Linked DNA regions of Homo sapiens. The protein of the gene in region 1 purifies or fractionates together with the protein of each later gene. This does not show direct contact. Each region holds a gene or a part of one and is shown in the gene's direction. Other genes may lie near its edges.

What was found.
Region 2: the proteins of LYPD6 (region 1) and PLXNB2 purify together in Homo sapiens (affinity purification with mass spectrometry; 3 studies listed by BioGRID and IntAct, with this or other methods). This does not show direct contact.
Region 3: the proteins of LYPD6 (region 1) and DNM3 purify together in Homo sapiens (affinity purification with mass spectrometry; 3 studies listed by BioGRID and IntAct, with this or other methods). This does not show direct contact.
Region 4: the proteins of LYPD6 (region 1) and SLC12A4 purify together in Homo sapiens (affinity purification with mass spectrometry; 3 studies listed by BioGRID and IntAct, with this or other methods). This does not show direct contact.
Region 5: the proteins of LYPD6 (region 1) and TMX1 purify together in Homo sapiens (affinity purification with mass spectrometry; 3 studies listed by BioGRID and IntAct, with this or other methods). This does not show direct contact.
Region 6: the proteins of LYPD6 (region 1) and TMEM245 purify together in Homo sapiens (affinity purification with mass spectrometry; 3 studies listed by BioGRID and IntAct, with this or other methods). This does not show direct contact.
Region 7: the proteins of LYPD6 (region 1) and TMEM214 purify together in Homo sapiens (affinity purification with mass spectrometry; 3 studies listed by BioGRID and IntAct, with this or other methods). This does not show direct contact.

What each region holds. Positions count from the first base shown.
Region 1 is NC_000002.12:149,435,087-149,438,586, forward strand, and holds part of LYPD6 (ly6/PLAUR domain-containing protein 6 precursor), read left to right. Parts: intron 1-2,551; 5' UTR 2,552-2,622; coding exon 2,623-2,740; intron 2,741-3,500.
Region 2 is NC_000022.11:50,297,647-50,301,146, reverse strand, and holds part of PLXNB2 (plexin-B2 isoform 3 precursor), read left to right. Parts: intron 1-635; exon of another isoform or gene 636-649; intron 650-811; exon of another isoform or gene 812-1,021; intron 1,022-3,500.
Region 3 is NC_000001.11:171,844,498-171,847,997, forward strand, and holds part of DNM3 (dynamin-3), read left to right. Parts: intron 1-3,500. UniProt on the Homo sapiens protein: Microtubule-associated force-producing protein involved in producing microtubule bundles and able to bind and hydrolyze GTP. Most probably involved in vesicular trafficking processes, in particular endocytosis.
Region 4 is NC_000016.10:67,948,138-67,951,637, reverse strand, and holds part of SLC12A4 (solute carrier family 12 member 4), read left to right. Parts: intron 1-333; coding exon 334-498; intron 499-577; coding exon 578-676; intron 677-926; coding exon 927-984; intron 985-1,144; coding exon 1,145-1,319; intron 1,320-1,719; coding exon 1,720-1,838; intron 1,839-3,478; coding exon 3,479-3,500. UniProt on the Homo sapiens protein: Mediates electroneutral potassium-chloride cotransport when activated by cell swelling. May contribute to cell volume homeostasis in single cells. May be involved in the regulation of basolateral Cl(-) exit in NaCl absorbing epithelia.
Region 5 is NC_000014.9:51,246,747-51,250,246, forward strand, and holds part of TMX1 (thioredoxin-related transmembrane protein 1 precursor), read left to right. Parts: intron 1-345; coding exon 346-474; intron 475-2,579; coding exon 2,580-2,625; intron 2,626-2,721; coding exon 2,722-2,823; intron 2,824-2,946; coding exon 2,947-3,019; intron 3,020-3,500. UniProt on the Homo sapiens protein: Thiredoxin domain-containing protein that participates in various redox reactions through the reversible oxidation of its active center dithiol to a disulfide and catalyze dithiol-disulfide exchange reactions.
Region 6 is NC_000009.12:109,088,948-109,092,447, reverse strand, and holds part of TMEM245 (transmembrane protein 245), read left to right. Parts: intron 1-1,292; coding exon 1,293-1,526; intron 1,527-3,500.
Region 7 is NC_000002.12:27,035,965-27,039,079, forward strand, and holds part of TMEM214 (transmembrane protein 214), read left to right. Parts: intron 1-5; coding exon 6-88; intron 89-522; coding exon 523-628; intron 629-740; coding exon 741-822; intron 823-1,112; coding exon 1,113-1,214; intron 1,215-1,596; coding exon 1,597-1,738; intron 1,739-1,825; coding exon of another isoform or gene 1,826-1,837; exon of another isoform or gene 1,838-1,850; coding exon of another isoform or gene 1,851-1,928; intron 1,929-2,067; coding exon of another isoform or gene 2,068-2,181; coding exon 2,182-2,273; intron 2,274-2,519; coding exon 2,520-2,568; intron 2,569-2,737; coding exon 2,738-2,851; intron 2,852-3,082; coding exon 3,083-3,115. UniProt on the Homo sapiens protein: Critical mediator, in cooperation with CASP4, of endoplasmic reticulum-stress induced apoptosis. Required or the activation of CASP4 following endoplasmic reticulum stress.

The sequences.
Region 1 (3,500 bases):
ACTGGGTTCTTATGAGTAGAGGAAGTGACACCAGGACTATGCATGTAGGGCAAAGCCATCAGCAAGCCAAGAAGAGAGGCCTCAGGAGACAGCAGCCTTGCCGACACCTTGATCTTGGACTTCCTAGCTTCCAGAACTGTGAGAAATCTCTGTTGTATAAGCCCCCCAGTCTATGGTATTTTGTTACGGCAGCCTGGGCTAACTCATACACCATGGATTTACTATCTTAATTTTGTATTTTCCTCTCCAGTCTTTTGTCTGTGCATTTGTTCACATTTATGTTTACAGTTACACACATAATGTTCATTCCATTTTGATCTCTGACTCTCAAACTGAGCCCTGCTACGTACAGATTGGGAGGAGATGGGGGTATTGGCCATAGTGCTGCCAGGTATCCATGGGATGCTGTGCAGACCTGTCCCAGAGGTGCAGCCTCACCTTACCAACCTCACCATGCTGGCAGAGAAAAGCCAGATGGATGTGGAAAGAAGCACTGTTGAATTCATTCAAGATGAAGTGATGTTTGTCTCTGTCACTTGGCTGCTGACTTGCAAGGGAAAGATACTGGTGGATACTTGTTTTTTCATCATGTTGTTCAACCAAGTGCCCAGCACAGTGCCTGGCAGTCACATTTATTAAGTGATTGAGTGGCCCATTCTCTTCCTGAATGCCAGGTTTGCTTGGGGAATTAAATTGTAAACAGAAGATGGCGTAGTGAGCATGAAATTAGCAAGGTTGGCATTATCAAGCTGTTACAAGTGATAAGAGAGCTCTACTCTGTTGTCTAACAATTTGCCAATTAAAAAAGAATAATCACATCTGGAAGTAATTTAGCATGTTATGCATTTTATGGTTTCAGCTATTTAAAAAAATATTTTAAAAAGTTATAATACTATTCACTTAATGTGGTCCCATTCTGTAATTTTGAACAATTGCTTGCACCCTATAAACAATTGGGTCTGTTGGGCTCCTTAGAGTGTTCTACTTTGTAAGTTCATTTTTATACCTTCTATCATTGTGTTTTGATTAATTTTGCTTTGTAGTATATTCTAGATCTGATTGGGTCGTATTGATTTTCTGTACTGAGTTTCTGTTTCATAATATATTTCCTTGCCTATGTATTTTTACAAAGTAATTATGCTATTTAAAAAATCTTGTTGAACATTTATATTAAACAAAATATCAAAACTGTTTGTTTTCAGCTAGGTTAAAATAAAATGAGTAACCTTGACTCCTTGCAGAGCAATAGAGATAATGGTACTTGGAAAAGTAGTAGAACATGAGGAATAAGCTTTATAGGAAACCAAGAAGATAGCAAGAGAATAGCACCTATATAAAAATTAAGACAGATCTCTGCATTCCCAGTAAGCAGAGCAATTCAGGCTTATTACAGATTTGTCTTTTCCTTAATTTTGAGTGAAAAGGACAATCAGAATAAAGGACACAGTAGATAGTAATCACTTAGTGCTATAGCGATAACACAATCTTATCAGTTTGGTTTTTTTTTTCTGAGATGGAGTTTCACTCTTGTTGCCCAGGCTGGAGTGCAATGGCACAAAGTCAGCTCACTGCAACCTCTGCCTCCCAGGTTTAAGCGATTCTCCTGCCTCACCCTCCCGAGAGTAGCTGAGATTACAGGTGCCTGCCACCACACCCAACTAATTTTTTGTGTTTTTAGTAGAGACAGGGTTTCACTGTATTGGCCAGGCTGGTCTCGATCTCCCAACCTCAGGCGATCCAGGCCTTGGCCTCCCAAAGTGCTGGGATTACAGGCATGAGCCACTACGCCCATCCAATCCGTTTTTTAAATACACCTTAAGTCAGTCTTAAGAACAAAGAATTGCCTAGTGTTTAACTGTGCAGACTCCAAAGCCACATTGCCTGGGTTAGAGTCAGATCTGCTACTTATTTGCTGAACCCCAGTTTACCCAAAATGGGTTAATAATTATGCCTACCTCATACGGTTGCTGGGAGAATAAATGGATATACATAAAGGACTTCAGTAGTACCTGGCCAACAAATATTAGTTACATTAAGGAGATTTTGTGTTACGGAGGCACTTTTTAATTTTGGAGAGGTCAGCTTTCCTGTATTTGTTTGTTTTCCTAAATCTGAAAGTCTGCCCTGTACAGGTTTGCATGGACACCCGTGGCCCAGTATGGCTGAACTCCCTATCTGACCTGCACCATTCTCAGGGAAATGCTTCTGAGCTTTTGCTCCTGACTTCTTTATCGTACTCTGGCAGCCATCCCCTGGCCTCCTAGCAAAAAATAGCTGGATTTTGTTAAAATTCAGTCTCTCTTGATACCATCTCTGCTGGATATGAGAGGGGATGGCTACCAGTGGAGCCTTAGCAACCTGATTAAGACTAGATCTGGGCTGGAATGTTCTCAGTGCTCTAAAATTACTGTTGATAAAGTTTCTCTCCATGTCTACCCACTTCCTTGTGCCCTGTTGCTCTCCATCCCATCTTACCAGCATGGGAGCTCAGCCAAGCCTCCTGTGGCTTTCTCCAGTCGATCACTGAGATGATTCTTTCTTCATTTTTCAGGTGCAAGTTCTCTCCTGTTGCCCTGAGTGCCCACTCCCAGGCCCTCTGTATGAGTGACACTTCAGTCTGCCATGGAACCTGGCCCTGCTCTGGCCTGGCTCCTGCTCCTGAGCCTGCTGGCGGATTGTCTGAAAGCTGCTCAGTCCCGAGACTTCACAGTGAAAGACATTATCTACCTCCATCCTTCAAGTAAGACTGTTCTCTTTGCTGCAGAAATATCACTTTATTTCAAATAAGAAGTGGTTCAAAAACTGGCCAGGAAAAGGCATCCTTCAGTATAGTGAAAACCTCCCGTGATTTAACTGGGGTGGTGCGGTAATTTACAAAAGATGTTTTATGCTTTACCCTCACCTTTTCACAAGAAGATTTTTGGTGGTGTTAAGGCAAATTATTGGGCTTGTTTTCTCTGTTCCCTACACAATCACTCTGATTCTGAACACTCTTCCCCTTGTACTCATGCCAGTCCTAAGTCAGCTTTTAAAGTGAACCACCATATCCCAGAAGGAGGATTGTTTGTAAAAGATCAATCCTTTATACGTAAGATAATAGCTGGTCTTCCTCTCTGTGCATCTAATTCTCAATTTCAGTGTAATTTCCTCCCACAACTTCCAATGTCCTGTGCCTCCTTTTGGTTTCCTATATTTAAGAATTATCTAGGGAATGCTTAATAACATAGATGCCCAGATCCCTGCCCTAGAGTTTCTGATTTGCATGTATCTCAGGCTGTACCTGTGCATTTTTGCATTCAGCAAGAACTTCAAGTACTTCTGCTGCAGACATTCTAAGGATCACGCTTTAGGAAACACAGCAGTTTGACTTCCTCTTTTGGTCTCTATCTTTGTATTTATTGTCTCTTTGTATGAATCCTCTTCTGTATTGCCCCTGTTGAGGTGAGAGCTGGTTGTATTGTGTATATTCTGACCTTCGGCTTTTGCCCCAAGGTGCATTA
Region 2 (3,500 bases), on another chromosome or scaffold:
GGGGAGGACCATCCTCCAGATGCGCCAGTGGGCCGTGGCCAGAGAGGAGGCTGAGGAGGGCCTCACAACTGTGTGTAGGATGGGAGGGCAGCCTGGGGCCCCAGTCTAGGGACGCACCATATACAGGGGCTGCACTTGGTGCAGAGGCGGAGAGGGGGCTGGGGCAGGCCCCTTGGGCATGGCCAGGTGAGCTCAGGGGGTGCCTGAGGGCCAGGGCTAGATACAGAGGCCCTGGGTACCAGGTGGCCTGGGTGTGTCAGGAGGTGTGGACCAGTGGGGGCTGTGACTAACTCGGCTGGAGCAAGTGACAGGAGGAGCTGGGGCTTCATGGGGCACCCCCAGGATCCTGGGCTGGTGACCCCATCACTGCCACCAGCCAGGGTGACTTTTCCTGCTGGGACCCAGAGCCCAGACTGCAGGGGAGGCTGGCCCTAAGTAGGAACCCCACCCTGAAACCAGGCTGGCGGGGAAGGGGTGCGACGGCCTCCACCTGGGAGGGGTCCTCAGCCGAGAGTCCAGCGGGGACCGCTGTAGACGCTGAAGCGAGGCTCAGGCCTCCACATCAGTCTGTCCCTGGAGCCCCGCCCCGCCCCGCCCCGCCCCAGCTCCTAGGTCGGGTTGTGCCGGGAGCGTTCGGCCTTTGCCTCGGGTGAGTCTGGCCTTGACCCTGGGTCCGGAGTCCTGCGGGAGGCTGCTCCGGGCAGGGTCGTGCATGATTGGCAGCTGGGCCGGGAGGGGCCGAGCCCTGAGACCGACCGGGGGCACGGGCGGAGCCACCATCGGCGGGGCGGAGCTGCTCCCCGCGCCCCTTCCACGGCTCGGAGGACTTAGGTAATGGCCGGCTGTGCGATCCGATGTGCCCGACGCCAGGTGAGCGCCCCGCGGGGACGACGTCTCCTGCGCTCGTGTGACTGTCGCCGCCGCCGTCATTGTTACTCGGGTCAGACTCCCACCCGCCCGCGCGTCCTGGGCCCCCGGCCTGGTGAGGTTTGTCCCAGAGGCGGCCACGTGCTCCCTCCAGGTGCGCGAGGCCGAGGGGCGGACGGGGCGCCGGAGTCCCCGGGAGGGCGCGGGCGGTGGCCGTGGAGCTTGGGCTCGCGGGGGGCAGTGGGCGGCGCCGAGGAGGCGCGGGCCTAGTCCCTGCGCTTCCTGGCCCCGGGCGCGCTTTGCCCCTGGCTCCCGGGCAACCGTTCTGCGCCCTCCGGGGAGTCTGGCGGTGCCGGCGCCGGGGGAGGGGCTGTGCCACCTGGGTCGGCCTGCGAGGAATAGTCCAGGGCGCTCCACACAGGCCGGGTGCCCGCCTTTGGCTCTGGCCGGGTACCGGGCTCGCAGACCCACCCAGGAGACACCGCCCCCCGCCTCCCGGGCTGAACTCTGACCCGGGTCACCGGTGGGTGGGGCTGGGTGGCGGGGCCGCCGGTCTCGCCCTCGCCGGGTCTCCCGCGCGCTCTCCACCCAGTCCCTCCCCGCGCCTACCCACGGGCGCGGCGCTGCGGGAAGGGGCGGCCGGGGTCCTTGCCGACCCCCCAGCCCCACGCCCCGCGGCACCCCCCTCGCGCTTGTTTTGAAAACAGCGGAGGCTGGGATTCGCCGGCGCGTCTGTTTTGTTTCCTCTGATGTGTTTAGCGCTCTGGGATAATTGCAGATTTGCGTGTGTCGCTAGCTTTGGCCCGGCCCCCTGGCTGCTGGCTGCGGGGCCTCCGGGGCCTCCGTGGCTTTTCTGTGACGCCTGTCGCCCCGTTCCGGGACAGCCACTCTCAGACGCGCCTTGGCCTGTGCTTGGGGCAGCCTATCGCTCACTTGGTCCGAGGCTGCTTCCCCCGCCCCCGCACCGGGCCCCCCCCCCACCCCACGCAGGGCCTGTGTCCACCCCAATCCTTTGAGCCCTGGAGGGCCGCACAGCCCTAGGACCTCTGCCTTCTCCACCGCCCATGTCCTAGGTGCTCATGCCACCCCCTCCTGCCCTCCCAGGCCTAGGCCCGAGCTCTCCTCGTTCTTCATGGCGGCTGCTGCCTGGATCCCCATCTTGGCCCCTGCCGGGCCGCTGCCCATGCACCTCCTCTGGCCCCTGCCCTCTCTGGTTCCCGTGCCAGAGCCCACAGCCTGGCCTGGCCAAGAGCAGCCCCCAAGCTGGGCCTGCCCTCCCACTGGGCCTGACTGCTTTGTGCTGGTTTGATTTTAGCATTAAGAATGGTCAGTCTGGCTGGGTGTGGTGGCTCACGCCTGTAATTCCAGCACTTTGGGAGGCCAAGGCGGGTGGATTGCCTGAGCTCAGGAGTTCGAAACCGGTCTGGGCAACACGGTGAAGCCCCATCTCTACTGAAATACAGAAAATTAGCTGGGCATAGTGGCGTGCACCTGTAGTCCCAGCTACTGGAGAGGCTGAGGCAGGATAATTGCTTCAACCTGGGAGGCAGGGGTTGCAGTGAGCCAAGATCATGCCCCTACACTCCAGCCTGGGTGACAGAGTGAGACCTGTCTCAGAAAAAAGAAAAGAATGGCCCAGTCTGTTTGCTTGAAAATACTGAAAGGCAGAGAACTCCCAATTTTAGTCCCCACTGGAACCACCCCGCAGTGCAGCCAAGACTTGGGGCGGTCTCAGAACCAAGGCTGGCAGGAGTTTGGGGGCCTGGCAGCCCCCACTCTTGGCCTCATCTGGAGTAGGGCTCTGTCCTTCCCCCTTACATGCCTCTTGTTTACCTTTACCCAGTGGGAGGGGCGGGGGCCAGACTCAGCCCGTGCAAGGGGCCTGGGGGCTGCTGGTCAGAAAAAAAAAACAAAAGGGACCTCAGGAGAGGGCCACAGGTGCCCAGCCAGCAAGCAGCTCCTGCTGCCTCCCAGGCTGTCTAGGTTGTAGAGGGGAGGCCCAGCATCCCTGTGCTGCCCTTGGCCTACATCGGAGTTCTGGTTGGGGGAGGAGACCCTTCTGCTCTGTTGGCCTGGGGGTGACCTGCGGGGACAGGTCTTCTGGGCTCGCGCCCCTGCATGTCACCACCCCTTCCCGGCTCACTGAGTTTGGACCGGCAGGTGCCCAGTGACCAGATCCAGTGTTTGGACTTGTTGGGGCAGGGCGGCGGGGCAGCCGGGGCCTGTCGGGGAAGACCATAGACCACAGAGCAAGGCCAGTCCCTCAGGGGCTGGGTTAGGGAGGGTGTCTCGGGGTCTAAAGGATGGGCAGGGGCTTTCCAGGGAGCACAGTGAACATGGACGTGGGAATGTCGTGAGGCAGCGTTCTCTGAGTGGGCACAGCTGTAAAGATTTCCACACCCACTCAACCTCAAGGCAGCCCTCTGAGGTGGGCGCCATAATGACCCCCAGGTTACATATGGGGAAACTGAGGCACAGAGCAGCTTTCTGAATGGCCCACATGAGCCAGCTAGAACGTGACAGAGCTGGGGTGTGAACTCACTGGTCTGGCTCTGGACTTCAGGCCTCGAGGTCCCTGGGTGCAGCAGCGTCAGGTGTGACCACAGCCACCTAAGGAAGAAACTCCTTTTTCT
Region 3 (3,500 bases), on another chromosome or scaffold:
TTTTTTTGGACACCAATGAATGAATTCGGATGTGAATATGTTTACTTCATTTAGCGGTTGCTGTAAAAGCTGATTTTTGGGTGACAGGTTTGAGATTGTTATGAATAAAATGAGTCATGAATGAACCACTTGTTTGTGATTTTCTTGCTGAAGTGATGAACTTGCATATTAATGTGATATAGCATGAGTAACCAGATTGTTCTTTTGGTGGTGCAGGATGAGATATATGCTGGCAATGAGAGGCAGCTTAAGATCTAATGAATAGAATTTGAGACCTATAATCTGAACATAGGGGTTTACTAGCTGGCTTGGGTCTGCCTACTGGTCTGATTTGTATACAGAAGAATTGAATTTATTCAACTATTTTCATTATACGTATACATATATTTATAGTGCAGTGGTGATGATAATAATGGTTAACATTTATAGAGTGCCTGTTATGTGTAGGTACTATTCTGGGTGCTTTTATATGAATAATCTCATTTAGTCCTCATACAACCCCAAAGAGGTAGGTACTCTTATGATTTCCATTTTACAGAAGAGGAAATCAAGATTTAGAGAGTTTGAGTAACTCACTCAAGGATAATTTAATTTAATATAAAAACAGTGGAGCTAAGATTCAACTAGAGGTGTTGATGACCATAACCCATGCTCTAGAACCTCTGTGCCATATTGCATCCTCCATGTTGAGGTTTACCATTTCCTCTGATAAATACTTTTAACTTCTGTCTTGCTCCCTATATAAATGTTACCTATATTAATAAGAAGCTGGCCAGGCACAGTACTCATGCTTATAACCCCAGTATTTGGGGAGGCCAAGGCGGGAGGATTGCTTGAGCCCAGGAGTTTGAGACCAGTCTGGGCAACGTAGTGAGATCTTGTCTCTACAGAAAAACCAAAAAATAATTAGCCAGGTATGGTGGAGCATGCCTGTAGTGCCAACTACTTGGGAGGCTGAGGTAGGAGGATCACTTGAGTCCAGGAGGTCAAAGCTGTAAGTGAGCCATGATTGTGCCACTGCACTCCGGCATGGCTGATAGAGCAAGACTCTGTCTCAAATAATAATAATAAACAAGAAGCTACTATGTTAATGATTTTATTAATATTTATTTACATATGTTTACCTTGCCTCATTTCACAGAAGATTTGAGGTGACCCCTTAGGCAGAAGCAACATTTATTAAAAGATAAGTATTTTTCTTTGCTATATTAGACATTCTTGAAGAGAGTTTTAAAATGTAATTGGATTGTTTATTTAAGTATGTTTTTAGAGTGCATATAACTCATTTATAGAGGTGTTAAGTGAAAACTGTACTAGTTGCTAATACGCAGATGTTTTAAAATGACACGCTTGTTAGAAATATTAGTTTTTCAATGCTAATTATATAGGCAGAAGAGTCCACATTATTTTATTCTAGTCTGAGTGGTAAATAGACTCTCAATTCTGCACAAATAGAAAAAGTTTTTTGATTAATGGGGACGAAATAAAATATTTTTAAAAAGTGATTATGCTGATATTTTTCAAGAAATTGCTTCTAAGTATTATAGTTATTAGATAAATGGTGCTTACAATTAAAATGTCATAATTATTGAGAACCATACTTCATAGTTCCCAAGGTCTATAAATAAAGTGTCAAAACATGAACTTTTCTTCATGCAACAATGAATTGGTAGAACTTGAAATCACAAAAATATTTTTGCTGAATTAACATTATATAATATACTTTTAGGTTATCACAAATTCACAGTTGGTGGTACTTAATTACTACCATCAAATGAATTCCTTTTTTATTAGTAATGTCTGAGAGCAATATAACTAAGATAACTAGACTGGATAGGATATCTCTGTTTTGGAATTTACTTATGATTAACAGTTATCCAAAAATGCACTTGATTTAACTTCTTTAAGAATGAAGTTGGGCAGTCACCCAGAACCTTGGAGGAATGGAAACTTAATGTTTAGCTGGATTAGAGGGTAGGCTATTGGGTTCTCTATCAATGGAGTATACATTTAGAGTGTTAGGTATTCTTCTTAGGTAGTACCTTTTGCTATGGCTAGTAAGTTAAATTATGAAGTTTTATTTATTATTGTCATTTATTTTAGAGGGACTTCAAGTATCTAGAAAGAAATAGATTATTTTTTTCCTCTGCTACCAGAGCCAAGTCAAGAGAGTCCCAAGCTCATATGCTATATAGAATGATCCAATTTAATTTTCTGCATGGCCAAAGTTTTGCAATTTATCCTAGTCCAAGTTTGCATTGCAGTTTCTCACACTCTCTGCATTGATTTAAAAATTCTTATGGATTATGTCATACTAAATACATTTTATAAAGTAGACGGAAAAAAGGGGCCAACATTTGCTTAGCCATTATGGGGTAGCAGACATGGATTCTGCTAGATACTTTTCATACCTTCTATTCCTTACCTGTTTCCATATCCCCATGTCAATAGGGGAGAAAATTCAGGGTTGGAGAGACAAGTCATTCACCCAGGATCGTATAGCTAGCAAGCAGCCAAGCTGGGATTCAGTATGACTCCTCCTGGAACTCTTGAGAAATATGGACACATAAAACCAATGAACATGTATTTATTGAGTTCTAAGTTTACTGGGTAAGAATATACAAGAAAATATGAATACATAGAAGCTTATGTATGTATAAAAAGAGAACTGACAGGATAAAGTATGAGACAACTTTCAAATGCACATGTAAAATGAAGGTAGTCAGATATAATGCAAACTAATCAGGATAAAAAATTATAGTATGTCAATTTATTTTTACAAAAATCCCTGAAAAACTACAGTTCTGAAATTGAACTGAATATAAGTGGAAAGTAGACAATATATGCATTTCCAGTGTCATCTGGCAGCCCATATCATTTTAGCTCAAGCCTGCATGTACTGAAGTATCTATGTCAAAGCAGGAAGGTGGTGATCTGTGTCTCAGTTTCTGAGTTGACAACAAGGCATTGAATTTAGACTGTGACTTTATCACAAAGAGATACTGTATATTGGAGAGGGCCCTAGAGAAGAGCAGCAAGGAAAAAAAAAGAGATTGGAGAGATTAAAAATATAACTGGATGCAGTGAAGGTTAATTGAGAGTGGGATGGATCAGATCAAGTATTTTATAAGGACTTCCAAGGCACTAATACTTAAGGGAGGTGAATTCTATTTTCCTTTTAAAGAATAAGTCATTTAGTTAAAGGAGTAGAATAAGTCAAAGACACAAATGTCAGGGAAAATGTCCTAAAGGCAAACCTGAAAATGGAATGAATTGTTTAGAATGGGAGGAGGGTAAAGGAGTTGACACTAAATGATTTGCATTTCATGAATTAAAAATCATTTCCAACAAATTAGAGGGTTCATTAATACCATATTAATTACTCTCTCTCTCTCTCTCTGTGTGTGTGTGTGTGTGTGTGTGTGTGTGTGTGTGATCATAGGTAGCTTAGCTTTTCTTCCTTTAATAGTAGCAAGACTGGCATTTGATGACATTATTAT
Region 4 (3,500 bases), on another chromosome or scaffold:
AGCGTCCAAGGCCTGCAGCAGCCTGTCTTCCCCAGCCACCAGCCCCTGACACTGCCTGGGGATGTTCCCACAGGATCCATAAAGGCCTCTGTGGAAGGCGGGCAGTGGCGGGCTCTGGGTGACGGTGGTTCAGCCACCTTTGTCTGTCGACTTCTAGCTGGGCAGCTCCTTCTCTGTGGTCAGGGTAGCCCTGTGGCTGACGCTGCAGTCATTGGGCTGAAGCTGTTCCCTGAGTCCCCAAAGTTGCCCTGCATCTGCGCCTCTGGCTAGGCTGCCCCAAACTACCTGGGGTAGTGGGGGGCAGCTGTGGTGGTGACACAGCTACCCCTGCAGAAAACCTGTGGAGCGCCTACCTGGAGAAGGGTGACATCGTGGAGAAGCATGGGCTGCCCTCCGCAGATGCCCCGAGCCTGAAGGAGAGCCTGCCTCTGTACGTGGTCGCTGACATCGCCACATCCTTCACCGTGCTGGTCGGCATCTTCTTCCCTTCTGTAACAGGTGAGCCCTGCCTGCCTACCCACCCAGCCCTGTCCCCAATCCCGGGGAGCCCCTGAGGGAGTCTCATCTGTTTTTGGAGGCATCATGGCTGGCTCAAACCGCTCTGGGGACCTTCGTGACGCCCAGAAGTCTATCCCTGTGGGGACCATTCTGGCCATCATTACAACTTCCCTCGTGTGTATCCTTTCCCAGGCCTGGGGCAGGTGGGGCAGAGGACGGGAAGCGCTTGGCCTGTGTACGTTGCCAGGTCACATGCACAGACACCCCACACACTCATATATAGCTCCCCTTCTCATGCACACATGCACATACACACCACGAGACTCCCAGCTGTAGGTGTCCTGGTAGTCTGGCTGGGGTGGGGGCACGTGGTACTATTCAGGGACAGTGGGGTGGCAGAGGCCGAGTTTTCCTTGACGCCGCCGCAGACTTCAGCAGTGTGGTTCTCTTTGGTGCCTGCATTGAGGGTGTGGTTCTCCGGGACAAGTGAGTGAGCTGGGCCCCCCTCTTTAGCAGCGGCTGGGCTTTGGCCTGCCCTCACACCAGCTCCCAACCCCGTGGGTGGTCCTAAGCCTGCTGGCTGCCTTTGGTGGTCTGTGCCATCCTTCCGGACCCCTGACATCCCTCACTCTGGTGGCCCCTGCAGGTATGGCGATGGTGTCAGCAGGAACTTGGTGGTGGGCACACTGGCCTGGCCTTCACCCTGGGTCATCGTCATCGGCTCCTTCTTTTCAACGTGTGGCGCTGGCCTCCAGAGCCTCACAGGGGCACCACGCCTATTGCAGGCCATTGCCAAGGACAACATCATCCCCTTCCTCCGGGTGAGCCCCTCTGCACTCCCCCATGGCCTGGCTGCTCCCAGGCCCTCGCCCGGCTGGGGAGAGAGATAGGGAACACAGATGCAGCACGTCCTGCCCTTATTGGCCCCCGGGGCCAGGCGGCCATCCATGAGGAGCTACTGAGAAGTGCCCTGGGCCTGGCACTCACCTGGGCCTGGAGCTGCCTGGACCCAGAATCTTCATGGCCTGTTTAGGGCTCATCCAAAGGAGAGAGGCCTGGTGAGGTGGAATCAGGGAGACTGGTGACACCCATAGGGATAGACACAGGGGCGGCCTGAGCCCCCAAGGCGGGCCCTGGGGGTGAGGGAGGCCAGGCTGGGGTCTGGGGCCCAAGGTGTGGAATGGGGGTGACAGGACCCAGCTTCCTTCCTGGTGCACACAGGTGTTTGGCCACGGGAAGGTGAATGGTGAACCCACATGGGCACTCCTCCTGACGGCACTCATCGCCGAGCTGGGCATCCTCATCGCCTCCCTCGACATGGTGGCCCCCATCTTATCCATGTGAGCTGGGGCCGGGCAGGGCAGGGGGATGGGGAAAGGCTTCCTGAACCCCAGCACCTCCCCGTGGCTGCGTCTGGTGTTGGAGGTCCAGCTGGGAGATGTGGCAGGCTGCATGGGGAGATGTGGCCTGACAGGGCTCAGCCCACCCCTGCATTTAGGAGCAAGCCTGGCACCTATGCCAAAGCTATAAGGTGACCAATATGTCCACACCTCCCTGAGGCCCCCAGAGCAGGTGGCCGGCAGACCTTCCCACTGGACAGGGCAACCACCGCGTCCCTCATGCCTCCATGAAGCCACTGCTGCCCCTTCCATCTGTTAGTTTGTTTTTTGGTTTTTGTTTTTTTTTTTTGAGACAGAGTCTCACTCTCTCACCCAGGCTGGAGTGCAATGGCATGATCTTGGCTCACTGCAATCTCCGCCTCCTGGGTTCAAGCAATTCTCCTGCCTCAGCCTCCTGAGTAGCTGGGATTACAGAAATGCACCACCACGCCCAGCTAATTTTTTGTATTTTTAGTAGAGATGGCGTTTTACCATCTTGGCCAGGCTGGTGTCGAACTCCTGACGTCAGATGATCCACCTGGCTCGGCCTCCCAAAGTGCTGGGATTACAGGCGTGAGCCACCATGCCCAACCCATCCATTTTCAAAGTCATTTGCTTTTAACATTCTGGAATCAGCCAGGCAAATCTGCGTGCCAGTGCCTTGCAGGGAGTGGCCAGCATGTGGTGACTCCCAGGGACCCCGAGGCAGCGCTTGTTTGGTTGACTCTGTCCAGGCTGGGGTCCTCGCCCACCCTGCTCCGTGGCTGACGCTCCTTCTTGCTTGTGCGGTTATGAAAGGCCTCCTCTTCCCTGCCCACTCAGCCTGCAGACTTGACAGGGGCCCTGTACCCCTGAGCAGGCTCCATCCCAGCTACAGCCAGGCCTGCTGGAGCCAGCACCCTCTTGTCCACCCCCCCACACCCCTTCCTCTCACCCAAGAGCACACCTGAAACTGTTTTGCCACAGCCATCTTGGGTGGTGACCCCCCTTGTGCCCAAATCAGAGGCTACATCTCAGCCTTTATCTCGGGCCTCCTGCTGGGAGCCCCTGCCCCCTGGCATGCCCTGTGTGGGTCCTCCTGCCTTCCTGCGCACCCGTCCTCGGGTGCCTTCCTGGAGGGCTCATGCAGCTGGCCCTGCCCATGCGTGGGACTCCCACGCCCACCGCAGTGACTCTTAAGTATCTCTGACTGGTTGCATTCAAATGGTCCAGCTTATCTTCCATCCTCCCCTTCATGCATGGCAGCCTCTCATCCAGCTGGTCACTCAGGCCAGAGGCCTGAATGTGGCCTAGAGTCTCCAGGCACTGAGCTCTTCCTGCTGCCCCTGCACCACCCTCTTCAGCTCTGCCCTGTTACTCCCCTTCCTACCTCCTCCAACAGCAAACCCTTGCCCATCCTCTGCGATCTGGCTCCGAGGACTCCTCCACAGTAGTCTCATTGCCTCAGGCCATGGAGGTGGCAGCAATGAGGTTGAGAAGACCTTGCTGAGCCATGCAGGGCAGGGCCGGGCCACGCCCCGTTTCTGGGCCAGGCCCAGCCTGACATCAGGTCCCCAGCTGCCGAGGAGGCTGCTCTTCGCCAACCGCCCTCTGTGCCGCAGGTTCTTTCTGATGTGCTACCTG
Region 5 (3,500 bases), on another chromosome or scaffold:
CTATTCTAATAATTTTTATATAATTCTTTTAATATGTGTATTACACATAAGGCTTAAAAGTACTTTCCTGAGATTTATCTACTTACTGTATTTCATAGTTTCATTACTTGGAAGAATAACAGTAATTACATTTTAAGGCTTATGATTTAAAAAAATGTAACCTCATTGTTAAATTGGGGGCTAAAATGTCATGAGTAGGTAAATAGTATAATTTGCTATTAATACTTGTACATTGCTAATGCTTTTGAATGTTAGAATTGACTGTAAAGTGAAGTGAAAAAATAGCAAAATAAATATTAAATTATTTCTCAGTGCTGGATAATATTTAATTCTGATTCTCTTTAGTTGTAAAGATGGTGAATTTAGGCGCTATCAGGGTCCAAGGACTAAGAAGGACTTCATAAACTTTATAAGTGATAAAGAGTGGAAGAGTATTGAGCCCGTTTCATCATGGTTTGGTCCAGGTTCTGTTCTGTAAGTATGAGGGCTTTTTCTCTTACCCATTTCATAATTAATTGGAACAGATAATTATATTTTATGTAAAGCATTCATACTCAGTTTGTTTCTTGAGCTGTTAAGGTATATCCACATTTATTACATGTTTGATTTTTTTTTTTTTTTTTTTTTTGAGATGGAGTCTTGCTCTGTCGCCCAGGCTGGAGTGCAGTGGCGCAATCTCGGCTCACTGCAAGCTCTGCCTCCTGGGTTCACGCCATTCTCCTGCCTCAGCCTCCCGAGTAGCTGGGACTACAGGTGCCCACCGCCACACGTGGCTAATTTTTTTGTATTTTTAGTAGAGACGGGGTTTCACTGTGTTAGCCAGGATGGTCTTGATCTCCTGACCTCGTGATTTGCCCACCTCGGCCTCCCAGAGTGCTGGGATTACAGGTGTGAGCCACTATGCACGGCCTACATGTTTGATCTTTTTAGTTTGACCTTCTAAGTCAAACATATTTTCATGCTTCTTGAGTTAGAGAAGGCATTTTATAGAAGTAAGTTGTACACCTTTTCAGGAATATTTTAGCTTGCTAGATTTGGTCATATGTATCATCAAAAACTAAATGCCCCTAAGAGTCTTCACAGTGTAATGGGTAAAGCTATCACTCGAGTGTAATAATTTGAATGAGTAGGCTCAAACTTGTACTCATGCTACCTCCAGACTTCAATTTGTCTTTTAATGTTCTGTCTCCATAGAGACCGTCAATAATTGCCGATACCAACTAAATTAATTACATAAACTTCAACTCTTGATGTCAAGCGACTGAATTATGTTTGGTTGGTTATTCCACCTGTCTGATAACTTCTTATATGAATAGTGTGTATAAACGGTGACCGTAATAGTGTGCCTAAGCACTGAGCTTTATAGATATCTAGAGGGTAGATGAATTTCCTCGTAGCAACTGGCTATGGAGTGATAAGGATTGGAAGTAGCAAGCATGCTTTCTGCTTTGCTGTTGGAGTACAAGGCCTCACTGGTCATGTGAGAGACCTCTGGGAACAGTGAGTTTTGCTGAGGTCACCATGGACTGATCCTGTGTGGCCATCTGTCTCTTCCTGTCCTCTCACCACACTTACCTTTGGAGGATAGGGAGTTGGGACAGTAATCACATAAGAGAAAAATGCTCTAGATTCTGGGGATGGGAGAAAGATTAGCCCTGTTAACACTCACCCATTGAACTACCATGCCCAACTCAATTTTGGATCCTACTGTTTCTGAAATAAATTACTGCAGACTACAGTGAGGCTATACAGTGCTTTATGTTTCAGTTCCTTGTTTCTCTTCTCACTTGGCTTTTAAACAACAGAAGCAACATGATTAAAATACCTTTCTGTGTCGAACTAAAAGTATAACTGATTTTTGTTCTCTGAAATCTCATCTCATAAATGAATCTTGTCCTTCCAGTAGAAGAAAGTAGTTGCTTGTAAGTCTATTTTCAAGCAGCTACAATTGGGAACTCACAGACCTTTCTTATTTCTGAAACATGCCTTTTTAAAACTGGCCATTTAATTATGTAAAATACTAATTTTTGCTTATATGATGACTTAGCATTTATTTCCTATGTAATAATTTTGTATATCATTAAAAGATGTCAAACTAATGCTCTTGTAAATTTTAATTAATTTCAATAAAAAAGAGGGATAGTTCTTAAATGGAAAGAATTGGCTTGACAATTGTTTCCAGTCCTTACTTTAGCCTCCCTTTGGTCTTGCTTTGAAGGCTTTTAAGGGTGAGTAAGAGTTGCCTTTTCCAACTGGTTTCATGGAACTTGTAACCCTTTACTCAGTGTATTGGAGAAATCATCAGATGAAATACAAAATATTAACATCAAAACAGTGGGAGAAAAGGAAAAAAATACTGTCAAGTATTTTTATTTATGAGGCTGTCACATGGTAGTGTCAATTTAGAAACAGTTTTCATGAAGAAGGCTTATTACAGGCATGAAATCAGTGATGTGTCACTAGTCTTGATTAACAGCAATAAAATCTGTCATATTGGGGAAATTATAGAGTAGAAAATAGTATGTATAGACAAATCTGTGTATGTTACTCAGTTTTTTAATCATCTCTTTTATTTTTAGGATGAGTAGTATGTCAGCACTCTTTCAGCTATCTATGTGGATCAGGGTATGGACTAAAATATTTTTATCTTAAACATTTTTACCACTATCACTTTAACAAAAATGAACAGATTTTTAGTTTTTTTTTTTCTTTTGATTTTAGACTTGCCATAACTACTTTATTGAAGACCTTGGATTGCCAGTGTGGGGATCATATACTGTTTTTGCTTTAGCAACTCTGTTTTCCGGACTGTTATTAGGACTCGTAAGTATTTCATTTTTGGAGTGCTAGGAAGAAAGATATTTAAAAATGTGATTATTTAAAATAGTTACATTAGCTGTGGCATATATTCTACATTCAGATTTCTTACAATGTTTATTTTTACAGTGTATGATATTTGTGGCAGATTGCCTTTGTCCTTCAAAAAGGCGCAGACCACAGCCGTACCCATACCCTTCAAGTAAGTATATTTTAAAATGTTTATTTTTTATTCACGATAGTCCTATTCATTTCTGTAATCACAATCACACATTTCACAGGTTGCTCTTCCAGCTTAGAATTCTAACTGTGGATTGTTGGTCTTTATCAGCTATGGCATAAAGGAAGGTAGAGGAGATGTATATTTCATATAAGAATGTAGCCCAGTGGATTTTGGAACATTGTTATTTTCTTGACTCTTATATTATGGGGAATTTTAACATTGCATATAGCATGTAGCTATTTAATAATATTTATTTGGTGTCGTTTTATAAGTGGAGTATATTCTACTCTTGAAGTCTTTCATTAGTATACCGGCCGCCACATTTGAAGATTATTCTTTGAATGCCAGCCAACTGTAAGTTTTTTCTGGTAGGATATTGGGAAAAGCAATCCCTATAGTTGATTTAGGATGCCACTGACACTGAACTGTACTACAGAACAATTTAAATAATTACAAGCAT
Region 6 (3,500 bases), on another chromosome or scaffold:
TAGCCCTGCACTTTTAAGGGTAGAATGTTGGTCCTAGTGAGGTGAGCTGACTTACCAGGGTGCAAGTGATCTCAGTAGTAAAAATTGACTCATAGCTGAACTTTTAACATTAAAAACACTTAAGGAAATTATGATACAGCACTTGGTGGGCTACTGTATGATTGCTTATGAAAATTATGAAACAACAGGGAAGTCATTCATTCACTTATTTAGTGAGCACCTCCTATATATGAGATACTATTGTATGTGCCAGGAATTCAGTGGAGGGAGAACAAAACAGACAAGGTCTTAGCTCTGGTGGAGCTGACTTTCAACTGAAGAGAAAGAATGAGAAAGGATAAGTAGAACATGCTACAACTATGTAAAAGACCAGGGGGAAAATGTGAGGTTGGGATTATGGGAGTTCTTATTTCTTTTCTCTTTTTTCTAGACTTTTTTTCTGACGTATGATACTTTTGTAATTAACAATCCACACATTCAACGTGACATACTTTTGTAATTAACATTTTTTTCTAATGGAAGGCAAAATGCAAGTTTTAGGATCTTAATAATTTTCATTATTATAGTATATATAGAGTAATACTACTTTAAGAGTTTTATGATTTCTGATGTGTATGGTATATCTTATTAAAACTAGGAAATAGAAATAATAGCACCCTATAGTAAAATGTAACATGGTGGTTGCATTGTTAGAAAACAGTGTCTTATGTGAAATAATCCAGTATGGTTTCCTTTATTTGAAAATCCTCACCCAAGAAATCTGTCATTGTTTTTGTATCTCATTCATGTTTATATATTCTGTTTGAAAGCCCTGGGTTCTTGTAAGATTGGTTGGTTCCATTTTAGGTGAAATAACACTGAAAAGTCTTCTTGTGTCAGAAATGTATATAAATACACCTAATCTAAAGTTCTATTGAAAGAAAAGGGATTTTTAAATATAGAAATTCTAGTATATGTTAGCATTTGTTTCTTTAAATAGTTTGAATAAGTTTTATGGGATAATTATAATTCTCAGCTACTTTGTCATGTATTTTGTTTTAATGACTCCCAATTCTATCACCAACTAACTTAGTCTTCCTAAATTAAAGCTCTATTGGCATTGTAATTCTCCATGTTTTTCAGTGCATATGCAAACATAGGTCCAAATATTTTTGTCTTTTTTAACCCGATGTAATCATACCATATCAGCACATTTTGAAGGCCTGAAACAGGCTAGCCTAATGAGTGGCTCTGTATTCCCATTTCCTCATGTGGACTAATGCGGTGTGTGGTGTTTTTCTTTTCCTTTTCAGAAGCAGTGGACAGGGGAGAATCCGCTCCAACGTTGTCCACCTCCCCTTCACCCTCCTCCCCTTCACCCACTTCCCCTTCACCTACTCTGGGCAGACGAAGGCCTGAAATAGGAACGTTTCTTAGAAAGAAGAAAACTAGTGACATCTACTTTGTGTCTCTAGTTTGGGCCATTGTCGTCATGCAGATCTGGTTGAACCTGTGGATTGTGCAGTTGCTGCCAGTGCCGATTGCAGGTCGTTATCTGGTTAAGTACGATCTCGTCTTGTCTTTGAAGATTGATTTTTTTCTTTTTTTACTTTTGGATTTTAATATTTGAGATACATTTACCGTCTTGCAAAGTAAAACAATCTTATGTTTGCATTTAAATAGTAAACAAACACCATTTGGTTAATTTATTACTTTGATACATCTTTAATATTTCACTTTTTTTTTTTTTTTGAGACGGAGTCTTGCCCAGGCTGGAAGTGCAGTGGCACCATCTCAGCTCACTGCAAGCTCCACCTCCCAGGTTCATGCCATTCTCCTGCCTCAGCCTCCCGAGTAGCTGGGACTATAGGTGCCCACCACCACACCCGGCTAATTTTTTTTTTATTTTTAGTAGAGACAGCGTTTCACCATGTTAGCCAGGATAGTCTCGATCTCCTGACCTCGTGATCTGCCCATCTCGGCCTCCCAAAGTGCTGGGATTATAGGTGTGAGCCACCGCGCCCGGCCAGTATTTCACTTTTAAGCTCAAAAAATGTGTTTAGCTTCTTACAATTTCATGTAGTATTTGAGATTAATAGCTCCATAGAGAGATTTGATTGTTTAGCCATCCATGATTCTGTGAAGGAGAATGTTAACAATATCTGTGTTTTGGAATTTGAAGATCGAATGATTTTTTGTTTTTTTTTTGAGACGGAGTCTCGCTCTGTCACCCAGGCTGGATTGCAGTGGCGCGATCTCAGCTCACTGCAGCCTTTGCCCCCTGGGTTCAAGCAATTCTCCCACCTCAGCCTCCTGAGTTGCTGGGACTACAGGCATGCGCCACCACCCCTGGCTAATTTTTTGTATTTTTAGTAGAGACGGAGTTTCACCATGTTGGCCAGGCTGGTCTCGAATCCTTACCTTAAGTCATCCGCTCACCTCCGCCTCCCAAAGTGCTGGCATTACAGGAGTGAGCCACTGCGCCTAGCTGAGATTGAATGATTTTTGAGCGCTACTCTTAGGGAAGCACGTTTTACCTTGCCTTTTTAATTCAAAGGAAATGTAGGCTTTGAGAAATACATGTATGCAAAGTCTTGTGATTTGGCAGAAAAATTAAATTACATGTATATCTATATTATATGTATTACATCAAAATGGAATCATAGTTTTCCATAATCCATTAAATCAGGTCTTTGTATCTTAATGCTGTGGTAATTTAAGGCCCACCTCTATTGTTTTGATTCTCTCTAAAACTGTCTTTCTCCTAAGACTAGAAAGAGCAAGGGAGAGTTTTCTCTGACAGGTGCATTGTAGAAACATCTTTTACCTAATATTTTCCTGATTATTTGGGCTCTCTTCTTATGGCAGCCATATTTTGTGCCAAATTTATTAAGTCCTTAGTGGCTGCTGTGGATTTTGCCTTCTGAGTACCTTCTACATTTGATTACTCCTCATTTCCTATGTCAAGGTTTTTCACTATTGATTAAAACGTAATCTGATTTTTGGAAGCTGCTCTCCACTGTAGTCTAAAAGTCTAAACTTATTAGCCCATTTACCTTCTAGACCATTAGTTTTCATCACTTCTTTTTATTTTTCCTCACTCAATTGGATAGTTAATTAAATAGGCATTATTTTTTAACATTTATTATGACCAGAGCATGGTATAGTAGTGCCTGTCCTCAGGGAGCATGCAATATAAATGGTTGAAGTTTGTATCTGTATTTTTTTTTTTTTTGAGACAAGGTCTCACTTTGTCACCCATTCACCACAGCCTCGATCTCTCAGGCTCAAGTGATCCTCCTGCCTCAGCCCCTCAGATAGCTGAGACTACAGGTGCGTCCACTGGCTATTGTTTTGTATTTTTTGTAGTTTGCCATGTTGCCCAGGCTGGTCTCAAACTCCTGGACTCAAGCAAACCTCACACCTTGGCTTCCCAAAGTGCTGGGACTATACAGGTGTGAGTCACCGTCCCCGGCCTATATGTGGTTCTTCTGTCCTCAAACAGAACTTCTGTTAGGCAG
Region 7 (3,115 bases), about 120 Mb from region 1:
TCCAGGGGAGTCACTACATGGTTACCGCATCTGTATCCAGGCCATCCTGCAAGACAAGCCCAAGATTGCCACGGCAAACCTAGGCAAGGTGAGCTCTCAGTGATGGTGGGGATGCTAGGAAGCTAGGACTGGGGAGGCTGGGCAGAATCTATGTTGTTGGACTCAGGTTTGGGATAGTGGAAGACCTGTAAGCCTAGTAATAATGGGTAACACTATTAGCACCTATCCTGTGTGTGTGCTCTGGAAACATAGGAGCAAGGTACTGCTATTATTTCCCATTTTTATAGATGAAAAGATTGAGCCACAGAGGAGTTCAGTAACTTTCCTAGGCTCAGTCATCCAGTAAATGGCAGAGTATGGGCGAAGCCCACAAACAGAACCTGCACCACGTGGCCATAGTGCTCCACTCTTGCTCGGCCTGTCCTCCCTCTTCCAGTTGACATCTCCCTTCCCTCCTGGCTTTGGGGGGTGCTCCTGGTGTTTTGTCCTATCCCAATCTGCCTTCCCCACCGGTCTCCTCAGTTCCTGGAACTGCTGAGGTCCCACCAGAGCCGACCAGCAAAGTGTCTCACCATCATGTGGGCCCTGGGTCAAGCAGGTTTTGCCAACCTCACCGAGGGACTGAAAGGTAACAGGGAAATAGGGAAGAAAGAGGGAGGGTCTCGGAGCTGGAAAACTCCTCTTTGATGCCCCCAGTAGGTGCAAGCCTGAGGCCTCCCTCGTGACTTTTACCCCTGCAGTGTGGCTGGGGATCATGCTGCCTGTGCTGGGCATCAAGTCTCTGTCTCCCTTTGCCATCACATACCTGGATCGGCTGCTCCTGTGAGTAATGGGAGGGCAGCAAGGGGAAGGCTCAGGGTGTCCCAAGTGGCTGTTATAGCAAAATGGGAGGCTATGATCTTGGTCTCCATGGATATGAGGAAAATCAGGACCAGCTTCTCCCACCACCTTAGAATGTGATGGTGAGGAAGGAAGAAGAGGGAGCTATTAAGGGCTGGCAGATGGGGTAGAGTTTATACCCTTTTTCCTAGATGTTGGCTTAGCTGGGGTCATGGCCAAAACAGCTGGCATGGGTGGTGGTGTCCAGCGAGCCTGTTTCTTCATCCCCACAGGATGCATCCCAACCTTACCAAGGGCTTCGGCATGATTGGCCCCAAGGACTTCTTCCCACTTCTGGACTTTGCCTATATGCCGAACAACTCCCTGACACCCAGGTAGGACTGCTCTGGGGCACACCTGCTGAGAAGGGACCACAGCACCAGAACCACACTACATATTCCCGTCTCTCCTTCCCCAGCCATCCTAGATCTGAGATTTGCAACCTGGAAGTTCAAGAGTAGGTTTCAAGGGAACAGTGACCCCTTGAAATTATATGGACCCTTGAGTGTGATTGGCATATGGGCATTTTCTTAGGGATAGGGTCCATGGCTTTCAACAGATTTCCAAGGAGTCTCTGAGTAAAAAGATTCAGAGCCATTGCAAGGTCCTCAGTGGCTATTCCCCACAGGCAGGCATGGGCTCTGAAGCAAGCAAAAGGTTCATATCATACAGCTCCACTTATAGCTTATGCCTGTCTTTCCTCCCCACCCCACCCAGCCTGCAGGAGCAGCTGTGTCAGCTCTACCCCCGACTGAAAGTGCTGGCATTTGGAGCAAAGCCGGATTCCACCCTGCATACCTACTTCCCTTCTTTCCTGTCCAGAGCCACCCCTAGCTGTCCCCCTGAGATGAAGAAAGAGGTGAGGATATGGTGGGAGGCTTTTTCTCCTTCCCCAGGGGTCAGCTGTAGCGGTCCCTATCTGCTGACAAAGGCCTTGCCTTCACAGAGCCCATTCTGAGGCTTTTCCTTAGCTCCCTGTTGACAGCTGCCTGCCCCGCTCACTCGAGCTTCACCCTCAGAAGATGGATCCCAAGAGACAGCACATTCAGGTCTGGGTGGTTTCTGATGCCCGTCTCTTGCAGATAGTGATCTTTGAGCTCAAAGCTCTAGCTCAGGAGCCCCAGCCTCCTGCTTTACAGCCTCTCAGAGAGCTTTCTGGAGTCTTGACACTGTTTCTCCACCCCTTAGGGTGGATGTGCGGCCTGGATGGCCTTGCTTACGGGAAGGGGATCACCTCTTAGCACTCCCCGCCTCTGCCAGCCCCATGCCCCCAGCAGCCTCTCCCTCTGTCGTGCTGTGCAGCTCCTGAGCAGCCTGACTGAGTGCCTGACGGTGGACCCCCTCAGTGCCAGCGTCTGGAGGCAGCTGTACCCTAAGCACCTGTCACAGTCCAGGCAGGTGGGGTGGGAGGCCAGCCTGTCCCTGTGCTAGAAGCAGAAGGGGAGCCTGGGTCACTGTCCCATGGCCTGACACCTTTCAGGCTGAGTGGGAACATTGCTGGAGCAGCCTCTAGGAAGCTGCTGCTCTGTGGGTGGTAGGTGGAGGGTCTTTCAGCCTGAAGGAGCCAGGGCTAATGGAGGACAGGAGGATGGGTGAGGCTGCGCGAGCCACCTGACTAGGGGGTTGTGCTTTCCCCACAGCCTTCTGCTGGAGCACTTGCTCAGCTCCTGGGAGCAGATTCCCAAGAAGGTGAGGAGCTGGGAGGACGTGGCAGGTTGAGCCCTGTCTGGATTCTAGGTTCTGAGTGGGGGCTCCTCAGCCACTGTCCCTTCCCTGAGAAGGGACCCTGTTGGCATGGAAAATGAAGCAGGATGGAAGCTCTGGATTCCCTCACAGGCCAGACCTTTCTTGTCCATAGGTACAGAAGTCTTTGCAAGAAACCATTCAGTCCCTCAAGCTTACCAACCAGGAGCTGCTGAGGAAGGGTAGCAGTAACAACCAGGATGTCGTCACCTGTGACATGGCCTGCAAGGTGCTGGCACCCGGTCCTCTCCAGCCCACACGCTATCTTACATCTCTGTCTCAGCACACCTGGGTTGGGCCTGTATCACATTCCTGCCCCACCTGTCTGGAGCCCCCCGCTGCCTCCAGGATAATGTGAAGGCTTGACGCTCTTTCGGGAAGGCCTGGCTTGAGGTCTGCCCTCAGAGGCAAAGACCAGCCCCTCGCTTCTGACAACTGTCTCCTGCTCCCCTCCCACCAGGGCCTGTTGCAGCAGGTTCAGGGTCCTCGGCTG